Linked DNA regions of Homo sapiens: regions 2, 3 and 4 are each linked to region 1. Evidence: fine-mapped expression QTL. A gene starts in region 1. Each other region holds a variant in brackets. All regions are shown on one strand. Distances are from middle to middle.

Region 1 (5,151 bases):
TCTCTTCTCCATTTCTATAATGTTGTCATCTGGGAAATGCTATGTAAGTGTACTCGTATAGTATCTAACATTTTGGGATTGGCTTTCTGTCACTCAGCATAATTTAATTCCCTGGATTCTTATCCAGGTCGTGGAACGTACTAATAATTTGTTCCTTTTTATTGTTGAGTAGTATTCCATGGTATGGATGTACCACAATGAGGATTGGGTAGAAGCTCATTGCTTTTGCCTAGGGGTGTCTAATTGCTCTAGCACTGTTTGTTGAATGGCACAGAAATCAGTTTGGCATATTCATGTGGGCCTGTCTCTGGGTTCTCCAGTCTGTTCCACTGATCTATGTTATGTGTCTCTCTTTTTGCCAATGCTGTGTTGTCTTGATTACTGTAGTTATCCAGTAGGCCTTAATATGGGATAGATTCATTGCTCTAACTTTTTTCTTCTTTTGAGACGGAGTCTCACTCTGTGGCCCAGGCTGGAGTGCAGTGGCATGATCTTGGCTCACTGCAACCTCTGCCTCCCAGGATTGGGTTCAAGCGATGCTCCTGCCTTAGCCTCCCTAGTAACTGGGATTACAGGTGTGCACCACCACGCCTGGCTAATTTTTCTGTATTTTTGATAGAGACAGTGTTTCACCATGTTCATTAGGCTGGTCTCGAACTCCTGACCTCAGGTGATCCACCCGCCTCGGCCTACCAAAGTGCTGGGATTACAGGCATGAGCCACCACGCCCAGACTAACTTTTTTCTTCTTTTTCAAGATGGTTTTTAGCTATTCTAGGGCCTGTACCTTTACTATAAATTTTAGAATATCTGCCAAAAATCACTGTGAGGCCAGGCAGGGTGGCTCACACCTGTAATCCTAGCACTTAAGAAGGCCGAAGTGGGAGGACAGCTGGAGCCCAGGAGTTCAAGACAAGCCTGGCCAACCTAATGAGACTCCATCTCTACAAAAACTAAGAAATTAAAAAATTAGCCCAGTGTGGTGGTGCACATCTGTAGCCCCAGATATTCAGGAGGCTGAGGCAGGAGGACTGCCTCCTGGGGAGGTTGAGGCTGCAGTGAGCCATGATTGCACACCTCTACTCCAGCCTGGACAACAGAGCAAGACCATGTCTCAAAAAAACAAAACAAAACAAAACAAAACAAAAAAACCTTGCAAGATTTTGATAGGAATTTTGTTAATCTGTAGATCAGTTTGGGGACAATTGACATCTTTTGTGTGTTGATTTTTCTTCCAATTCATGATTATCATCATTGGAAAGAAGTGAGTATGATGAGTCTTCTAAGCCAGGCAGATAGCAAAAAAATTAGGAAAGTAAATGGATTGCACAGGAAGAATTAACTGGGATTTAAATAATCAAAGACAGAAAGGATATATAAAAGAAGTGACGAAGGAGATTTACCCTATTAGACTCCAGTGTATTAATCTAGGACAGTTTGGTTGCTATGGGGAAGCAGTGTGCAAAAACTTAAGAGGCACACAAAAGACTGATGTTTATTTTGTGGGAGTGAATCTTTTTTTAGGAAGGAAATAGCACTATTGTGGTAACAGTGATTCATTTTCTCCTCCTATCTTCTCTTTACAGAGAAGACCCAAATAGTGAACTGTTTCATGTAAGTTTTTATTTATTTTTGCCCTACTTTTCTCTAGGGAGGGGCTTACCACAGCTTATAAAAATACGTAAAACAAGATCAAATAAACTTTAAAATGAGGAAAAAGCCAATATGGTCCAAGGGAAAAGAAGATCAGGGTCAGGACTGAGATTAGGATGCAAAAGCCATGCTATGAAATTTTGTTTGTTTGTTATCTTGAGATGGGTAAAAAAAAAAAAAAACAGTTGACTGGGACAAATACCCCTAGCACAAAACAGTCATGAAGCCAATGTTTAATTATTATACCTGTCATCTTTTCACCTGGCCTCAGGACTGTCCTCTTAGGGAGAGGCATTGTTCTGTAGGGTTAATTAGTAACAGGAATTTAGATCCTGCTTTGAGAGGCCTCCTGTGCTGGCCGAAGCAGCTGGTGGTCTGAGAACCCTGACACCCAGAGGCATACCACTGGGAGGCCCCGCGCAGCACACAGCTTTTGCTGTACTCCAGCCCAAGTCTTATGGGGTTTGTGGTTTATACTGAAGTTGGTGCAGACAATTAAGACTCTCTGTTCTTGGTACCGACAGGGACAGAGACCTACAATTGTAAGTATTTTGTAAACAGGGTTGTGATATTTGTTTGAGTGTATTCAACATGTCAGTGGCCTTTTAATGTTTAAAAAAATGCATATGGCCATTTAAGAAGTGGTTGTGCTTCATAGTTAATATTTTTTTCATTAGGTTAGGTTCATCTGGTTTTTCAGTGAGGTGAGCTACCTGAGAGCCATAGGAAGATAGATCTTGCCAGTTCAGAGGACTGACTTTGGCTTTAAGAGAAAATATTTGTGTCATTTTCGAGAAAGTACTTCCAGCACAATGCTTTCTTCTGATGATTCATTTTCTACAGTTATTGGAAGTGGGAAGAAATCCACAGAGGTTACAGAATTTGTAAACTTGTAGAGACATGTGCCATTATATCATGCTGTTTCATAGATGTGTATGTCTGTTAGTTACTTTTCGGGCATTCATTGTATATATGTCTGTTACTTACTTTTGGGGTGTTCAGTGTCTGAGCTTTGTCAACGATTGTGTGCTCTTTTTTTAGCCTAAAAAAACTAAGTTAGAGAAATGTTTGCTCATCCAAATCTGTATTGTTGTAGCTTATTCAGTAGACTGCTGTTGTATTTTTAATTTCTCTATACAACAAGCTGAAAGACAGTGTGGACAACCTAATTGCATTTGAAGTAGCTGCTGGCCAGGCCTGCTGCAACAGCTGATGGGCTCCTCTGAATTTCCAGGGCTATTTCTGGTAGATGAGCTGGTATCAAGGCTCTCGAGTTCAGGCCATAAAAGGCCCGTCCCATGTGAAGTTGCTTCACTGCTCTGACTGCGTCCTCCCCAGGCTGAAGTGTCCTCAGGTTTCATGTGGATTTGCCCAGTAATGGATGGCTCCACCGAGGCCAGGTTGGGGAAGTTCAGCCTCGAGGACACTAGGGGACGAAAAACTTCAAAAAGAAGACTCTTTTTATTAATATTTTGGCGTTCTTTTTGGAGAGGAACTTTTGGGATGTAGCCTTTACCTGTTTCCTGAATTTGACATCCAAAAAGCCTTTTGGAAAACACCATTCTAAATTTATCCTGTTCTGAATCATCATCGCTTCTGATAGATGCAGTTGCTTGCTGACATCGTGATCTTTGATTTTGTACAACGCTATTTGGGCTAACTTTTGGGATTTTACTTTGTGCTTAGAATTTGAAAGTAGTATTCATTGGAAAGAGACTCCAAGAAAATACTCGAAGACATCAAAAGCTGGATTCGAGGGTATAACGTGTTTTGTTTTGTTTTTTAAATTAGAAAAATAAGGAATTGCAGTGTGATTTTCTTTCCCCCTTTAACTTAGAGGAACGAGGATTATACAGAAATTTGAAGTAAGTGAAAAATCTTCCTATAAATCTAAATGCAGTAGGTTTTTTTTTGTTGTTTTTGTTTTTGCTTTTTTTTAAGTGCCATCTGTCTGAGCATGTTTCCTGAGGATTTGTTGACTTCAGTCATTGGAAAATTCCTGCCAGCGTTTGCCAGTTACTGCAGCCATTCCTGTAGATACCCTTGGGCATATTTCTTGGGTTGAGAAGGATTGGACTTTTTTTTTTTTTTAAAGGATTTACTTTATGGTAGAGAAAGGTTTAATACTAAAAATTTGATTAATATAACTTAGTACATTCTGTCTAAATGTTAGCACTTAAAGTCTTGGAATTAAAGTATATTCACAATGCAACGTACTTTAATAATCGTAGCACAAGTATGGGGGTGGAGTTCAGAAGGGCAAGTTTTATTTCACTGCCATTATAATTCATGTAAAAATAGAAAATCACCAGTGATCCTTTTGCATAATCTTTGTTCTGAGGGTTCTTTGCCTTGGTACTCTCATTCTTCAGGGCTTGATTTCTAGAACTTGCGATGTTCCAGAATTTATGAGAAAAACCTCACTGTAGGTTCTAGAGTTTGAACTGCATTTTATTTTTAAATTCTCCAAGAAAAAATACTGCATCAGCCTTTTAAAGCCCTGGAGATTGCTATGGTCTCTTTGTAATTTAGCTCAGTGATTTGTTTCTGCTGAAAAACAGCAGTGAACTCTAGAACATAGAAGGCTTATTTGACGTGTTGCTTCTTTGAAAAAAAAAAAAGATTATTTCTTTATACCACATCAGATGGACAAGTACGGGCAGTCATTATTTTTACCAGGTAGGAAAACAGAGTATTTATAGAGAAGAACTTCATCGGTGAATACTGCGAGGGTTCTTCACCGGAGATAGTGTGGCAACCCTAGGGGGCGTTTGAAAATGCATGGGGGTGTTTCAGGTTTTCTCAATGACTCACTGGCATTTGGGAGGATGTGGTTAAGAATTGTAAATGCCCAATTTACATGGTGTAGGGGACAGTCCCATACAGCATTACCCTGGCCAAACTGCTGGTGGTATCCCCTGTTGAGTAAAACTGCAGGATATAAATTGTACCCTCTGTCTCCAAAGAAGAGCAGCCCAGTGCCAGGCAGATGTGTGCTGTCTCTTCTCACCAAAACCAGTGATGTCTTTTTTTTTTTTTTTTTTTTTTGAGATGGAGTCTCGTGCTGTCACCCAGGCTGGAGTGCAGTGGCACGATCTCGGCTCACTGCAACCTCCACCTCCCAGGTTCAAGTGACTCTCCTTGCCTCAACCTCCCAAGTAACTGGGATTACAGGCACCTGGCACCATATCCAGCTAATTTTTTTTTGTATTTTTAGTAGAGACGGGGTTTCACTATGTTGGCCAGGCTGATCTTGAACTCCTGACCTCGTGATCCGCCCACCTTGGGCTCCCAAAGTGCTGGGATTATAGGCGTGAGCCCCTGCACCCGGCACCCGGTGATGTCTTGAGGATCCAGGGCATCAAGTGTGCACTAGTGTCAGAGAATTTGTCTTACAATGGAAACTTTGGAGTCTATACTCTGTGTGTGTGTGTGTGTGTGTGTTAAAGATAATTTATTTGGTCACCTTGATCACTGGATGAGGCTGATGTTATACAAG
Region 2 (5,151 bases), 180 kb after region 1:
CCAGAATAGTTTGTTCATATTCACACAGTGGTTTTAAAAACAAAAAAATTGATTCTGCTCCAGAATATTCTAGGTGCATTTTCTGACCTTCTTTTTCTATTGCAGATTAAGAAATGGGGCCAGGGGAGGGAAGGGGGGTGTGATTTCTTTTCAGGTTATTTTTTAATATTTATTTTTAAACAAATTCCATTATTTGGAGGCTTCTGGTGTTTAGACTTCAAATCTACTAATCTTAGTCCATAATTCACTCATGGGACAGTCCCTAAACATTTTTCCAGAGACAGTTCTGAGACAGGGTTTGTTTAAAACTCTGTGACAAGGTGAGAAAAGATCTATAAGTCAGAGAAACAAGACTCCATCATCTCTACAAAAAAATTTTTTAAATTATTAGGTGCGCGTGGTGGCACATGCCAATAGTGCCAGCTACTCAGGAGGCTTGAGGTGGGAGGACTGCTTGAGTCCAGGAGTTTAAGGCTGCAGAGAGCTATGATTGAGCCACTGCCCTCCAGCCTGGGTTACAGTGAGACACTGTCTCTAAAAAATAACAAAATTTGGGGTCAAGTGTGGTGGTTCACACCTGTAATCCCAGCAGGAGGATCGCTTGAGGCCAGAAGTTTGAGACCAGCCTAAGCAGTATAGCAAGACCCAGTCTCTACAAAAAAAAAAAAAAAAATGGAAAAGGAAAAATAAATTAGCCAGGCCTGGTGATGCATACTCATAGTCCCAGTTACTCAGGAGGCTGAGGCAGGAGGATCACTTGAGCCCAGGAGCTGGAGGCTGCAGTGAGCTATGATTGCACCACTGCACTCCAGCCTGAGTAGCAGAGTGAGACCTTGTCTCAAAAAATACCATTTTTTAATTTAAAATTTAAAAATTTTAAAAATTAAAAGTCCAGACAACTGCAGGGCTTTGGGCGATCCCTTTTCTTTCAGAGCCATTTCCTCCTCAGTGATATGGAACTATGCATCCTCAGGCAGTATGCAGGTGGCACAGGGCTGTGTGTCTGTAAGCACTTAATAAAACAAGTTCAAATGTAGGACACGAGCTCTCCTCTCTGCCCCCTCCTCTTCTCTAGGACACGGAAGTTTCCAATCAGATCACCCTCGTGGAAGACGTCTTAGCCAAGCTCTGTAAAACCATTTACCCGCTGGCCGACCTCCTGGCCAGGCCACTCCCGGAGGGGGTCGATCCTCTGAAGCTTGAGATCTATCTCACCGACGAAGACTTCGAGGTAAGCGGTTCTTCCGGTGGGGTGGGGATGGGAGTAAAACAACACACGCACGCCCGGCTCCTTTCACTGAGCCGCGGGGCGCTTCTCCCAATGTTTCCAGTTTGCACTAGACATGACGAGGGATGAATACAACGCCCTGCCCGCCTGGAAGCAGGTGAACCTGAAGAAAGCAAAAGGCCTGTTCTGAGTGGGGAGACGCCAGAGGAGCCTCACGGTCACGTCCAACAACACCACTGCACCAGGGAAATGGATATATATTTTTGGACTGGTGTTTTTCACAAAGTATTTTTCAATCAGAGTTTTCAGAACCTGACATTGTTAAAGATACTGCTTGTCCCGGAGTTGTGTATTTTGTAAATGTTCAAGGGAACTGTTTGGAAACTTCTTTCCACCATTCAGGAGGTTATCAGAATTAATAAAAGTATCTGTTATGTGCACTTAAGCCGCAGCTGCTATAGATAGCACTGCCTTCTTGTTCCAGCTAGGCAATGCCTTTTTTTTTTTTTTTTGAAGCAGTTCTCTTTATAAAGTGTTATTTTGATAGTTTGTGGATTCTAAAATATATATATATTTATATAAACACCATATAAGTCAAATATGTATTTAACAAAGCAATATGTATTCATTCACTTTCAAGATTTGTTTTGGTGTCAAAATAACATGAAAAGGTAGATGGAGTTGCTTCTGTTGAATTAGCTCTGCCACCAATATGTATCTTCATACACGTTTGGAAATGTTTCCTGCAGCATTAGGTATGACTTGTTCTGAGTACTGCTTCCGGTGCTAAAATGAACAAAGAATTTGTACTTAATGGCATGGACTCTGGAGAATCTATGCGAATCAACCTTTCTACCTTAATATCTCCCCAAAAATGTATAGTGCCTTGTTTTTATGTACAGTTTATATACAGAAAAGTTTGCTCTGCATTTTTGATGATGGTTTGGAACATTATCTACAATTTTACTCTCAAATAGTCAAAATAAAAACATCTCAATTTCTAATACCGGTTGTAAACAGTACACATGTCATTTTGTGATATAGGACTCCCAAATAAAAGTATCAGAATAAACACAACAATTAACTGGTTCACATTGAATTCCAAGCATGTTCCTTTCTGGAATTTTTTTTTTTTTTGGTAAATATTAACATAGCACCAAATTTTGTAATTAAGTATAAATGACTATACATTTGAATTTAGTTTAGGGCAAGATTTTATACAAGGTCATAAGATTAAATACAGAGTTATTTGCCCCATAAAATTAGTACTCAGTACTATAATGAAGACATACTTTTGCAAATCATCATTCAGCAGAAGTTCTTTATCCCACAGCTATATCTATCTACAATTTCAATTTTAGGATCTCAATGCCCTTTAAAAAATTGTATGGGCCAGGCGAGGTGGCCCACACCTGTAATCCCGGCACTCTGGGAGGCTGAGGCAGGCGGATCACCTGAGACCAGGAGTTCAACAGCAGCCTGGCCAACATGTTGAAACCCAGTCTCTACTAAAAATACAAAAATTAGGCATGGTGGCACATGCCTGTAATCCCAGCTACTCAAGAGGCTGAAGAAGGAGAATCATTTGAAACTGGGAGGCGGAGGTTGCAGTGAGCCAAGATCGCGCCATTGCACTACAGCCTGGGTGACAAGAGTGGGACTCCATTTCAAAAAAAAAAAAATT[A/G]TATGGATAAGACATCTAGAAAACTTAAAAAATGAGTTAGAAAACTCCTCACAAGCTCCCATGTTCTTAAATCCATGGTTTTGTGAACATATTCTACAGACCTACTCTGAATTGTCATAGCCCTTCCCCACTCCCTGTTAGTCTAATTTAACACATCCAGTCACAGCACATTTGCCTGAAACTTCAGGACTTACAGGCCCCATCCTGGGACCGCACCAGGGTAGAAACCTATAACCTGCTCCTGGTCTCACCATTTTATGATTTTTATGATATTGGGTCATCACTGAACTTTTCTACCTTGATTTCCTTTAAAAGGAGACACTCCTAGCTATCCTGCCTGCATCACAAGATTCCGAGCAAGGAACTAGTGGAAGCTCTTTGAAAATCGCCAAGTGCTAGATACCTGCCAGTATTAAGATTATTGTGATGGTAGTTAAAATGGGAAAGCAGGGGGGTTAAGTTAGGGAGTGTTGTCATGCACCTAGAAATGATGGATTAAATCAAAGCAAGGAGACGAAAAAGAAGAGAGGTTCAAAGTCCATGTTCCATAGATAACACGCAAGAGGTATGGAGAAAGGTTCCTAGAGTCACTAGGGCAACCTGAGGGTCAGAAAGAGGCAGGATTGCAACCTCTGCAGCAGGTTCCAGATATCACCTGAATCTTTAGATACCCAGGAAGGAGCTTGAGTTGCTACAGGAACTACCAGTGGAGAGCCGCTGTAATGAATAAATAAGACAGATGTCCTCATTAATATTCATTAACACCAGATTTTCCCAAAGTCCTTTAAAACTGTGTCTATCCACTTGTATTAAACATTGGCAACCAGGTGCGGTGGCTCATGCCTGTAATCCCAGCACTTTGGGAGGCCAAGGCAGGTGGATCACTTGAGGTCAGGAGTTTGAGACCAGCCTGACCAACATGGCAAAACCCTGTCTCTACTAAAAATACAAAAATTAGCTGGGTGTGGTGGCGCACACCTGTAATCCCAGCTACTTGGGAGGCTGAGGCATGAGAATCGCTTGAGCCTGGGAGGCCGATGTTGCAGTGAGCCGAGATTGCACCACTACACTCCAGCCTGGGCAATACAGTGAGACTCTGTCTCAAAAAAAACACAAAAAAACAAAAACCACTGTCCCCCGACAAAACGTGCTGTCTGTCTGCTTCTCGCCACTTCTTGGTGAATAAGACACCCCAGCTTGGAGAGCCAGTATACTTTTTGCCTCTTTTCCTCTAAATTGTTTCCTGCATCTCTTTCCTGCTTATAGAACCAGATCCTATTTTCCATGGTTTTTTCTGATCCTTTTCCTTCCATAACTGCAAACTTTGACCTTTGTACACTGGGAAGGGACCTAGCTGAAACACTTGAATTGCTAAACCTTAAAGTCTCAGCCCAGGAATTGACACTGGTGCTTGGGGCTTTTCTCCACAGTCATCCAAACTCAAACCCCCGCTCTCACTAAATGCATCAGGGGCAGGGAAGTGCGATGTCCTGAATTTGCTGTCCTTGAACTAAGAGACTCAAGAGAGGGGTGGGTGTTTGGATTGAGATCGATATCAGAGGTGCCGCGGGGCAGATGGGATGTTGAGCGTGTTCTGTAGCTTTGGATGAACTGTGCGAATATGAGCCACTTCTAGAGTGGGACAATCCTGCCTCTTTGTTCCCAAATCCGAGGAGGGGAAAGGCTGCTGTGAGCCCACTTCTTTCTCTCCTACTTTACATTTCCTGCCCTGCTATTAGAATTCCCATTTTGGTAAAAGGAAACGTATTCCAGAAACAGTTCCAGAATTCATTTTGGTCCTTTGGTTTTGTTTTTTTTATTATAAAATTAGCCGTGTGTGTCCACTCAGAAACCTGGACACAGATGTTCATAGTGGCATTATTCATAATAGCCCAGACCTGTAAACAATCCACATGACCGTCAACTGAGAAACAGAAAAACAAAATGCAGGACCTCCATGCGATGGCGTCCTCCCCGACAGCAAAGGGACAGATATTCCTGCGTATACATGACGTACACCTGATACTCACTACAACATGCATACGCCTCAAAAGCATTAAGTGAAAGAAGCCAGATGCAAAAGGCCACATATTGTTTGATTCTTTTTATATGAAACTTCCCATAAAGGCAAATCTGTGCAAACAGCAAGATCAACAGTAGCTGAGGTTGGAGATGGGAGTGGTGGTTAACTGCAAATGGCATGAATGATCTTTTTGGAGTAATGGAAATGTCTCAAAAC
Region 3 (5,151 bases), 170 kb before region 1:
TCTCAACCCCCAGACTCAGGGGATCCTTCCTTCTTGCTCCCATTCTTGTAGCCACAGCTCCTGAGTGCAGTGCGGGTCAGGCCCTCTTCAAGGGATTCGTGTGAGTTCATCCTGGCAGGAGCCCTCTGAGGTTGGTACTATCAATCCTAATTTCTCAGATGGGGAAACTGAGGCATGGAACAATTAAGGAACTTTCCCACAGCTGCAGACCTCATGGGCAGCAAGGCCAGGGGTTGACCGAGTGGTCTGGCCTGGGATCTAGGGCTCCCCACCCTGCCTCACCCCTGTCCCCTGCCCCTGTTTCCAGGGACCTGCTGGAGGTCTCCTGGGATAAGGTGACATTGCCTCTCTCTTCCACGGCCCCCAATCATCTTCCTTCTTGTGTTTCGCACGGACCTTCCTCCCCTGAGGCTGAATATGGGATTCCTGTGAGATTTTCTCAGCATGAGGGCCTCGGAGAAGATATGGACCACAAAAAGTGTGGACAGTAAACTGATGTCCCTGCAGAATGCACCCAGCAAGCTTCTTCCCTTCCTAGACCTTTCAGAGAGTCCCAAAATGTTTCTTTTGGCATTATGCTTAATTTGGGGTCAAAATTGAGAGACACTAGGGTAAAAGCGGCTTTCTCTGATTATCATGGTTAGGCAATGCCTATGGCATTGACAGTAGGGTGATTTTTTTATCCTGCCCCTCAAATCTTGGCATGCTGTAGAACTCTGATGAAATTTAATATCAAGGGAAGCCTTGAAGCAGAAAACTAGGTTATTAAAGGGCAGCCTTGGGGTGGTGTGGCAGACACTGTGACATGCCTTCTATATCTCCCTTCATGGACAGACTTGTTGCCCCCACCACTGGGCATGCTGGTGGCTGGGTGTCAGCTGTCAGCTGCCCCAACTCAGGACTCATCTTAGCTGAAGAGCGGCTTTACCCTAAACCACAGAGGGATACAGGCCTGACCAGCTTGGTCCAACACTGGAGAACATTCTAGCTCCAGGGCTCCCCACAGGGCTGCCCAAGGCCATCATCAGATTTCATCACAGTTTGACTTCTCCCTCGCACTCTCCTGCCTTCTGTCTCCCTGCCACGGGAGTTGATCTCAAGCACACGCCTCAGACACATGCTACACACTAAACTCTGCTTCAGAGGCCACCACTCCAAGGGCATGAAGCATTGGGACAGCCCCAGTGGTGACAGGCAGTGTATTAGTCCGTTTTCACGCTGTTGATAAAGACATATCTGAGAGTGGGTAATTTATAAAGAAAAAGAGGTTTAATTGACTCACAGTCCCACATGGCTGGGGAGGCCTCACAATCATGGCAGAAGGTGAAAGGCACATCTTACATGGTGGCAGACAAGGGAGAAAATGAGACCCAAGCAAAAGGGGAAACCTCTTATAAAAATCAGATCTCAAGAGACTTACTCACTACCACAAGAACAGTATGGGGGAAACTGCCCCCATATTCAATTATCTCCCACTGGGTCCCTCCCACAACACTTGGGAATTATGGAAGTTACAATTCAAGGTGAGATTTGGGTGAGGACGCAGCCAAACCTTATCAGGCAGGATGTGTGAAGTAGGTAGCAGCCAGCGCTACCACAGGTGGGTGGGTGTGTGGGTTTTTCTCTCTGCAGGGATGCTCTGCTGAGAGGGAGGATGGGGACCTAAATCCAGCCTGTTCTCCACTAACCACATGCTGAGCCCTGTGTGGGGGCTGCACCTGCCAGGAGAAAGCACGCCTTTTGCAATTGCACCACAATACTGTACAAACTCTCACAGTCCTGGCAGCAGCCCTCCTGTCTTTGCTTTGGAGAAATAGTGAGAAGCTTAAGAGAAGTGAATTTTCTCAGATTCCCTGTGGCCTTTCTGGTTCCAGCCCCTGCAGCATGCAGCACAGGGAAGTGCAGCTGTAGCCTAGTTGTTTTTGCTTCACTGGATACCCTGGGCCCCAGGGCAAAGAGCCAACATATTATGCCCTCTGAGTCACAGAATCAAAACAGGATTCTCTGTTTCCAGAACTTAGTCATGGTGGCACTGAGGACATTTAAGGAAGACAAACATTAAGCGTCACATTGTATATCCTCAAAAGCTCTCTGCTTCTTGCATTTTTATTTGACTCCAGAGTATTTCCTCACTTTTCTGTACCCAACTGTACCCTCTGGCACCAACCAGAGACTTTGAAACCCTCAGTTTCAGCCATCATCAGTGAGGACAGAGGACGTCTGAAACCCAGACCATTTCCTGAGCTGCAATCACAAAGTTCTTTATATAATTACATATGTGGCACTGACTTCAGTTTCTATCATTGAGAGCTTCTTCCATGAGACTCAAACCACTGGTCACAGGTAAGCAAAAAGAAATGCATTTCCTTTGCCAACAACAGCTGCCTATGCCCACCTAATAATCACTTCTAGTTGAAGATTACCTTCTGGTAACTCTCCAGACAGACCCCAGGAAGCAGTTGGTTGGAGAGGAACCCTTCAAGTTGAAACTGGGTTTCAGCGTGTCCAGATGACTCATGTAAATACACAAGCTCTGAGGCATCTCCCCGACCCCCAACAAAAATCTCCTCAATCACTCAGTTTGCTTTCCACTCATTTCCTGCCCCTTTCCCTTCCTCTACTTCCTCTTTTTCTACTTCTTTCGCCTTCTTTCCCCATTCTGACAGAGGAAGACTGATCAAAGCTTTGTTTGTTATTTATTTATACACAGTCGTGTTCTAGAAGGGCTTCTTGAAAGAGTGCATAAAACTCAACTAGGTTGTATAAGGGTAAAGTAGGTCAAAAGGAAAAGGACAAACACGTGCTATAAAAATGCATGGCCCAGGAATAAGACAAAGAATGACCAATACAAGCCAAGCCAAGCTCTGGTGCTCCATGTTTCTGTGAGCCAGAGGCACGTTACAGCTGTGGATGAGCACCTCTGTGATTGGTTTCCCTTCCTCTGCCGATCAC[G/A]TCATCGTCCAATGCCATGGCTGTAAACACTGTTTGCACTGATGACTCTTATAGCCAAGACTGTACCCATTATTTAGAAATCTAATGACAGATGTTATTAAGGGCTGCAAGGCACCCTATGAAAAGGCTACACTTACCACATTCCCTTGCAACCGTGTAATTAAGTTCTGAACAATGACATGTCAGACAGCATGTAAAGAAGGCTCCTCACTCACACCTGTAAGCCCTGCACTTTGAGAGGCCAAGGCAGGCAAATCTCTTGAGCTCAGGAGTTCGAGACCAGCCTGGGCAACATAGCAAAACCTCATCTCTACAAAAAATACAAGAATTAGCCAGGTGTGGTGGTGTGCACCTGTAGTCTTGGCTACTTAGGGGGCTGAGGCAGCAGGATCACTTGAGCCCATGAGGTCAAGGCTGCAGTGAGCTGTGTTCACAACACTGCACTCCAGCCTGGGCAACAGAGGAAAACCCTGTCTTCAAAAAAAAAAAAGAAAAAAAAAGAAGGCTCTTCAAAGGGACCTGCAGCTGCAGCTTTGATCCTTGCCACAGTCTTCCTACTACCTGGGATGTGGAATTAATGATAAAAGCTCCATAGTCCCTACTTACTGGACCATGGGTAACCTTAAGGGTGGCAGACACATGCTGAGGATGATAAAGCTAAAAGACAAGTGCCTGCTTCCTTGCCAATACTGGACCCCCCCCCCCACCCCATATCAGCCCCTACTTGCCTAGCTCCAGATTTTCATTAAGTGGAAAAGAAGAAAAACCTGGGCTTATGTAAATCACTGATATTTAGGATTGTTTGTTATGTGTAGCCATCTGTATTAATCTGTTTTCACCCTGCTGATAAAGACATAACTGAGACTGGGAAGAAAAAGAGGTTTAATTGGACTTACAGTTCCACTTGGCTGGGGAGGCCTCAGAATCATGGTGGGAGGCAAAAGGCACTTCTTGCATGGCAGTGGCAAGAGAAAATGAGGAAGCAAAAGCAGAAAGCCCTGATAAACCCTTCAGACCTCATGAGACTTATTCACTATCGTGAGAATAGCATGGGAAAGACCGGCCTCCACAATTTAATTTGCTCCTCCTGGGTCCCTACTAAAACACGTGAGAATTTAGAGATACACTACAATTCAAGTTGAGATTTGGGTAGGGACACAACCAAACCATGTCACCATCTAATTCTAAATCATTCTTTCTCAAATTTTCATCTGTAACAATAACCTTTTCAGCTACATATTTGAAGTTTCTACTTGAGTGTTGAATTGGAGTCTTAAACTGAACAGGATCCAGACAGAACACTTGATCTTTTTCTCCCCTTTCTTCCCCAAACTTGGTCCTTCCAGAATCTTCCCCCTCTGAACTAAATGGTACCCCCATATGCCCAGTTGCTCAGGACAAACACCAAGGAGTCATTCTTGATTCTGTTTTACTTCATTCCCACACATCAGCAAGTCCTATGGGCTCCACCTCCAAAATACACCCCACACCCATCACCTCTCACCATTTCCCAGGATCTCACCATTGTAGCCGCTGTCATCTTTCACCTGGGGTATCTCAGCAGCCTTCCAGCTGCTCTGATTACACTCATCTCACTGAAATCCTCCCCCCACAGTGGCCAGAGTGATCTTCCAGAAAATGTAAATCAGATCATATCACTCGTCTGCTTAAATCCTCCAATGCCTCCCACTGAAGTGAGGATAAAATCCAAACTACTATGGCTCACAAAACTCCAAGTGAGCCAGTCCCTACTACCCATTACCCTACTTTTTCATGAGCTAGACTCCTAGCCCTTCTTGCCTTTCTTACTTGATATAGTTTGGATGTTTGTTGCCTCCAAATCTCATGTTGAAATGTAATCCCTGGCCACATGTGGTGGCTCATGCCTGTAATCCTAGCACTTTGGGAGGCAGGAGTGGAAGGATCCCCTGAGCCCAGGAGTTTGAGACCAGCTTGGACAACATGGCAAAACCCCATATCTACAAAAAAAAAAAAAATTATCCAGGTGTGGTGATGCATGCCTATAGTCCCAGTAACTCAAGAGGCTAAGGTGGGAGGATTGCTTGAGCCTAGAGTTTCCAGGCTACAGTGAGCTTTGATCGCACCATTGCACTCCAGCATGGATGACAGAATGAGACCTATCTCAAAAAAAGAAAAAAAAAGAATGTAATCCCCAGCTTGGAGGTGGGGCCTAGTGGG
Region 4 (5,151 bases), 240 kb before region 1:
TTCTTTGGACTAACATATTGTAGGTGCATGCTCTGAGGCAAGCACTGTGCTAAGTATTTCACATGCATTAGCTCATTGGGTGCTCCCACTGCCTTCCATGAGAGAAGCAGCCTTCTGAGGTCAGAGCGGGCCGAAGATGTGCAGCCTGACTTCTCACCCAGGTCTTTCCAAAGTCTAGGGCAAAGCTCTAAGTACTTCCTGCCCCTTGCTCAGCAATCGCCCTGCTTATAGCAGAAGAGAATAGAGTGTCTAGAAAGCATCACACAAGTCTCTTCTCTGGAGAGAATCTCACAATGTGAGTCCTGGAAGAGATTGCCAAGCCCCCAGAAGAGCACCACCCTCATTACACAACTGGAAAGAGTGAATGCCAAATTGCCTAGCTCGAGGTCAGCCAACTCATTAATTGAAGACAGAAAGATAATGTGGAAATCAAGCAATGTTACCATTTTGTGATGGCTTCAGACAAAGATTTTACAAGGAAGATGTTGGAAACCGCGAGTGAAGTTTGGGACTGGGCATTATATATGAATTGAGTTTTTCCCTGCATTCGACAGGGTGGAACACTTGACAGGTGACTATGGGTAAGCGAGAAATACCAAGAATAAAATAATTTACACATTTGGGATGCAAGAGGCTTTGTAAAGGGACCACAGAACATCATCCATTCCAGACCTTTGAGATGAAGTGGAGCCAGCCACTGTGTAGGAGGCTTTGGAGTGGGGGTGTAGACATAGATGTCACCTTTCAGGTCCAGGCTGATGGACATAAAGAGACTCGTACTTTCTGTCTTAAAATATAATCAACAGGCCTAGTAGAAGGAAGCAGGGCTCTTGGAAGGAATGGCTGCTTCCAAATCTAGGTGATTCCTGCTGTGATGGTGAATCAGGAGGGAAGGCTGCTATTGGTTAGCCTGGTGGCTTTTCCCATCTTGTCTCCTGTCCTACCTTGTGAACAGCTGAGGTGACAGTAGTCCCATCTTAACTCAAGGTTTGGATGCTTATTCACAGGACCTGACCTTTGACTTCTGGGTAACCCCATAGCATGGTTGACTGTGGCCAGAAACCAAAGGTATGTGTTGAGACCAGAATCAGCCTGGATCCTTTCTGTGGCATCATCAGATGGGACCACTCAGATCCCATCTTCTGTAATCCTGGCACCTCACAGCAAGGTTGCTTAAAGCCAAAGGAAGTTCTCTAGACACCCACAGAAGAAATCCATGAAGTCTAGAAGCCAGTTAGGTCATGGTCCTAATTCTGGGCATGGTGTCTTGATTTCAGTCAGGACTCCTCTCCTCCCTAGCTGATCCATGGATGGATCATTCCTTAAGATCAAGCTCAAGTTCTTCCCATCCTGGCTCCTGGACCTTTTGCTGATAAGCCAGCCACATACATCTGCCAGTCTTCAGCTCCTACAACAAACACTGTCTCCCTGAATTGCACTGGCCTCTAGCCTGAGCTAGCTGAAAACATAACTTATTTATTTATTATTATTTATTATTATTATTATTATTATTATTATTATTATTGGCCGATCTCATTCCTCTGCTTAAACTTGAAGCTCCCTGAGGACTGGGACTTGATGCACGTAATTCCTGGTGTGTCTTATGTTAATACCTAGCAATGCTGTGAAAGGTCCCTGAGGATGATTTGTCAATGGCAACGAAGCCATCTGTGCCGTGGTTCCTGCGTCTTGCAAGAGGAAGCTCATGAAACGGGTTGTAAAGTGTCTGTCTCTCCCTAGAACATTAGCACCTGCAAGGCAGAGAAGGCTTTTTATAGATGATGTGGCATCTGTGAGAAGAGCCACGCCTTGGTGGCAGTGCTGTTTGGGGCTGGCAAGTGGGGCCTGGGCTAAGGGAGGAACAGGAAGCGCTTTGACTCTACCGCAGGTCCCGAAATTCCTCTTGTCCTTCTTGCCTGTGGTTAGGAGAAGTCATTTACAGCCATGTCAGGCCATCTCCTTCTGGCTTCCGACTGGAACACGCAGGCCGACTGTCCCCAGGGGAAACCGAGATTGCTGCTGGGGCTGTCAGGGCAAAGCTTTTGTTCCTTTAATAAACCGTGTGGTGGATCTCAATCCTGCTGACATTTGTCGGGAAAACATTTCTTAAAAAGTCCCAGTCAAGAAGGAATGCCGGCTGGACTCGAGCCACTTCTGAAAACACAAGCATCTACACAAAGCCCTTGTATTGTTCCTGTCCTGTGACCTCATGGGTTGGTCACAGGCTGGTCTGGGGAGACCAGGCGCTGAGGGAATGGACTGGGCAGGTCACCAGTGGCCTCTGGCCTTGAAGGATGGCCTAAGTGGGTGCTCCAGTTTGGGAGGAAA[A/G]ACATCTGAAATGTTCCCAGTACAGCTACATTAACATTATTTGGGTTTGTGGATGTGCAGTGAGCTCAGCGCTATGTTAGGTGACACAACTAAAAAAAATACTGATTAGTGCCAGGATAAGTATTTATGTGGCAGGGTTCCTTGGAGCATTCCTATGGAAAGAGACAGATGTAACCAAACATGGTCAAAAAAGGCTTGCGGAGTGTGTGAAGTCCACTAGGATAGTAAACTAAGTACAGGTGTGTGTGTGGTGGGGGAGAGGATGCATCCTAGGACCCGAGGATGGCATGAAATGTACAGGAGAAAATAGAGGCACTGTGTTGGGAGTACCGAGTCCTGTAAGAAGGTTTCACCAGCTGGGAACAGATGTGAGACCGGTAGCAGATGGGACTAGGAAGGCAGATTGTCTTCATAATGGGGCCTTGAATGCTAAGCAAAAGAGTGTGGTTCATAATCCCACAACCAAAAATGAACCGCTAGACGTTTTGGCAAGTGGGATGGAATGACAAGATTTTGGAGAGCTGACCCCCATGGAGGGGCCAGAGTTTCACAGCAGAGGGTTAGGGGCCTGCTGCCATGGTTCAGGCAGGACATTGGGAGAGCAGAGACACGCTGCCGGCCATGAGGAGGCTTAGCAAGGGAGAGGGACAGTAGAGGGGATCCATCTCGTAGTGGCCCTTCCTGCCTGGCAAATGTGTTTGCTCCTCATTCCAGGCAAATGAATTATCGGAAGAATGGTTCTAACAAAGCGTCACTTTAGTCTTGTTACTCTTCCATCAGGATCTGCCCCCACCCCCGGCTTCCCCGCTGCTGGCCGTAGAAAGCTCATATGCCTCAGCTTGCCTTCAAGGCCCACACGACAATGCTCATGCTTTGATAAAGCAGCAGAACTCTTGCTTCAAAGGAGATCTCACACAGAAACCCGAGATGCGGAGCAGATCACAGGAGAGCCACTATACTTGCCTCTAAACACAGCCCGGCAATCCTCCCGCTCCAATCGGCCCACCCTGCACACTTTGGTTTCCAATCCTTCACCCACCCTACCTCAGCCCCACCCGAGTAGCCTTAGAGACCCGTTGAAGAAAACCCCATGGCCTTAGGGAGCACAGTTTGAACCATTTCCCTACGAGGTCAGTTTCAGTCTGCCTTCTCTCCTGCTATTTTTCATCCCCATCAGAGCTCTCAACCCTCCACCCCAAACACACCTTGAACCTTGGCCTTCTGTTGTTATTGCTTGTCCTGAAGCCCTGACAAGATGTCCTGATAGCATCTCAAGGGCTTCCAGATGTCACTGGTCACCAGGCCAGCCCATGCCTCTCCCCTGCCACCATGTGCAGCAGCAGCAACCATGATTTACTGAACACTTAATATATCCATTTTATAGAGATCATCTCATTTAATCCTCAAACCAACGCACCCAGATAAGTATTATTATTTTCTCACTTTACAGAGCAAGAACTTAAGTATCAAGAGGTTAAGTAACATACTCCAGGTCACGCAGGTAGGAAGCTGCTGAACCAAGATCCAAACCCAGGCAGTCTGACTCAAGAAGCTCCATTCTCAGTCAGTTCCCTTTACAGCCTCCCCAAACATATACGTGTAGACTGGCTGATGGATTCATGAACTTTATGCCTGAGGGAATGCGGGTAACGAAAGAGAACCTTCACTCGTTCATCCAGCATACACGTATTGCATTCTTAGTATGCGACAAGCCCTGGGCCAGGCCCTGTGGAGATGGTGGTTGAGAGCGGTGGACACTACCCCTGTTCCTTTGGACCTTGAAGTTCAGGAAAAGAGGGCAAAGATGACTCTGAGTTCGCCAGTGTGAGTAATTCAGAGATGAAATGATAGCTCCATGGGGACAGACGTCAGGAGAGGGAGTCAACGTGGAGGCAGGAAATTGATCTTGGCAGGTGGTCTGTGGAGCTTCAGGTGCCAGGTTGAAGCAAATTTAACAAGTGGAATTGTTCAGAAGGTGATGGAAATACTGGCTGGGAACTGAGAGAGAGACAGTGTGGGAGATGTGGACTGGGGAATTGCATAAATAATGTTGACAGCTGAAGATAGGAGAATAAGCCAAGATTAACATGGAGAAAATTAAGTCTAGAGACAAGAGCCAAGCCTTGGAGAACACCCCAGAGAGAATGGACCCCCCTCGAGAGAAGACATGGCCACAGGGAGTGCAGGAAGCCCAGGCACTCGGGGGTCTGAAGGAGAGAAGGCGCTAACAGGGCCAAGGGTCTTGGGAAGAGCAACGAAAAAGAATACTGGAGAAGTTTCTTTGGTTGGCCTAAAGGAAGTTCTTGTGATTTCCAAGAGCACAGTTTCAGTAGAGGGGTGAGGGTAAATTACAGATTATAGGAGATTTAGGGAGAAAACGGGTGATGAGGAAAAGCCATTTACTAAATACACTTCACATGGAAAAGCTGGCATTACTAGGGAGCGAGAATGGGCAGTTAATGGAAAAAAAATGCCGAACAAAACCAGTTTTATGGATTATGTGACCTGGACCAAATATAAATATGTTCAAATGCGACAGTCCCTGGACTTAAAATAGAGTGGTAAAGCCAAGCCAGCTGAAAGAAGACCTCCAGAGGTGACCTCCCTGAATCCCAGAAGATCCACCCCAGATGAATGGTGGTCTCGTCTCTCTGTTTCCTGTTTGGGATCACGACTTCATTTGGTTCAGCAGATTCTTTCTTATTTTTATAATTAAAATTTTTTGAAATAAAAGAAACTACCCAGTTAATCCCCCAAATGTATTTTTTTCCTTGGGGAAACATTTACATTCTTAGGACCCCAAATGCTAAGCCAATAAAAGCA

Alleles and levels. Positions count from the first base shown, and alleles are read on the strand shown. Sizes are in standard deviations (SD) of each study's normalised expression. Not every link is listed here.
For the expression in aorta of the gene that starts at base 2,966 in region 1, allele G in region 4 goes with a lower level than allele A (small effect, 0.30 SD a copy in GTEx).

Evidence for each region. PIP is the estimated chance that this variant, and not a neighbour inherited with it, causes the effect. A credible set is the group of variants that fine-mapping cannot tell apart.
Region 2: its variant is the best candidate, but not a certain one, in a credible set for the expression of SVIL in whole blood (TOPMed, PIP 0.58).
Region 3: its variant is the best candidate, but not a certain one, in a credible set for the expression of SVIL in whole blood (INTERVAL, PIP 0.88).
Region 4: its variant is the best candidate, but not a certain one, in a credible set for the expression of SVIL in aorta (GTEx, PIP 0.72).

The regions. Positions count from the first base shown.
Region 1 is chr10:29,632,786-29,637,936 of GRCh38, reverse strand. SVIL (supervillin) reads left to right here and starts at 2,966. Exons shown (of 38, transcript NM_021738.3): 1 at 2,966-3,517. RefSeq lists a silencer at 2,863-3,157.
Region 2 is chr10:29,454,514-29,459,664 of GRCh38, reverse strand. It overlaps SVIL (supervillin), which reads left to right. Exons shown (of 38, transcript NM_021738.3): 37 at 1,076-1,231; 38 at 1,332-2,327. The coding sequence ends at 1,418. All of the region lies in intron 2 of SVIL-AS1 (SVIL antisense RNA 1), which reads right to left. Among named protein-coding and RNA genes, the nearest start is that of SVIL-AS1, 48 kb to the right of the region's middle. The variant A/G (reference allele first, on the strand shown) is at 2,913.
Region 3 is chr10:29,801,173-29,806,323 of GRCh38, reverse strand. No RefSeq gene overlaps it. Among named protein-coding and RNA genes, the nearest start is that of SVIL, 170 kb to the right of the region's middle. The variant G/A (reference allele first, on the strand shown) is at 2,953.
Region 4 is chr10:29,875,258-29,880,408 of GRCh38, reverse strand. No RefSeq gene overlaps it. Among named protein-coding and RNA genes, the nearest start is that of JCAD, 180 kb to the left of the region's middle. The variant A/G (reference allele first, on the strand shown) is at 2,329.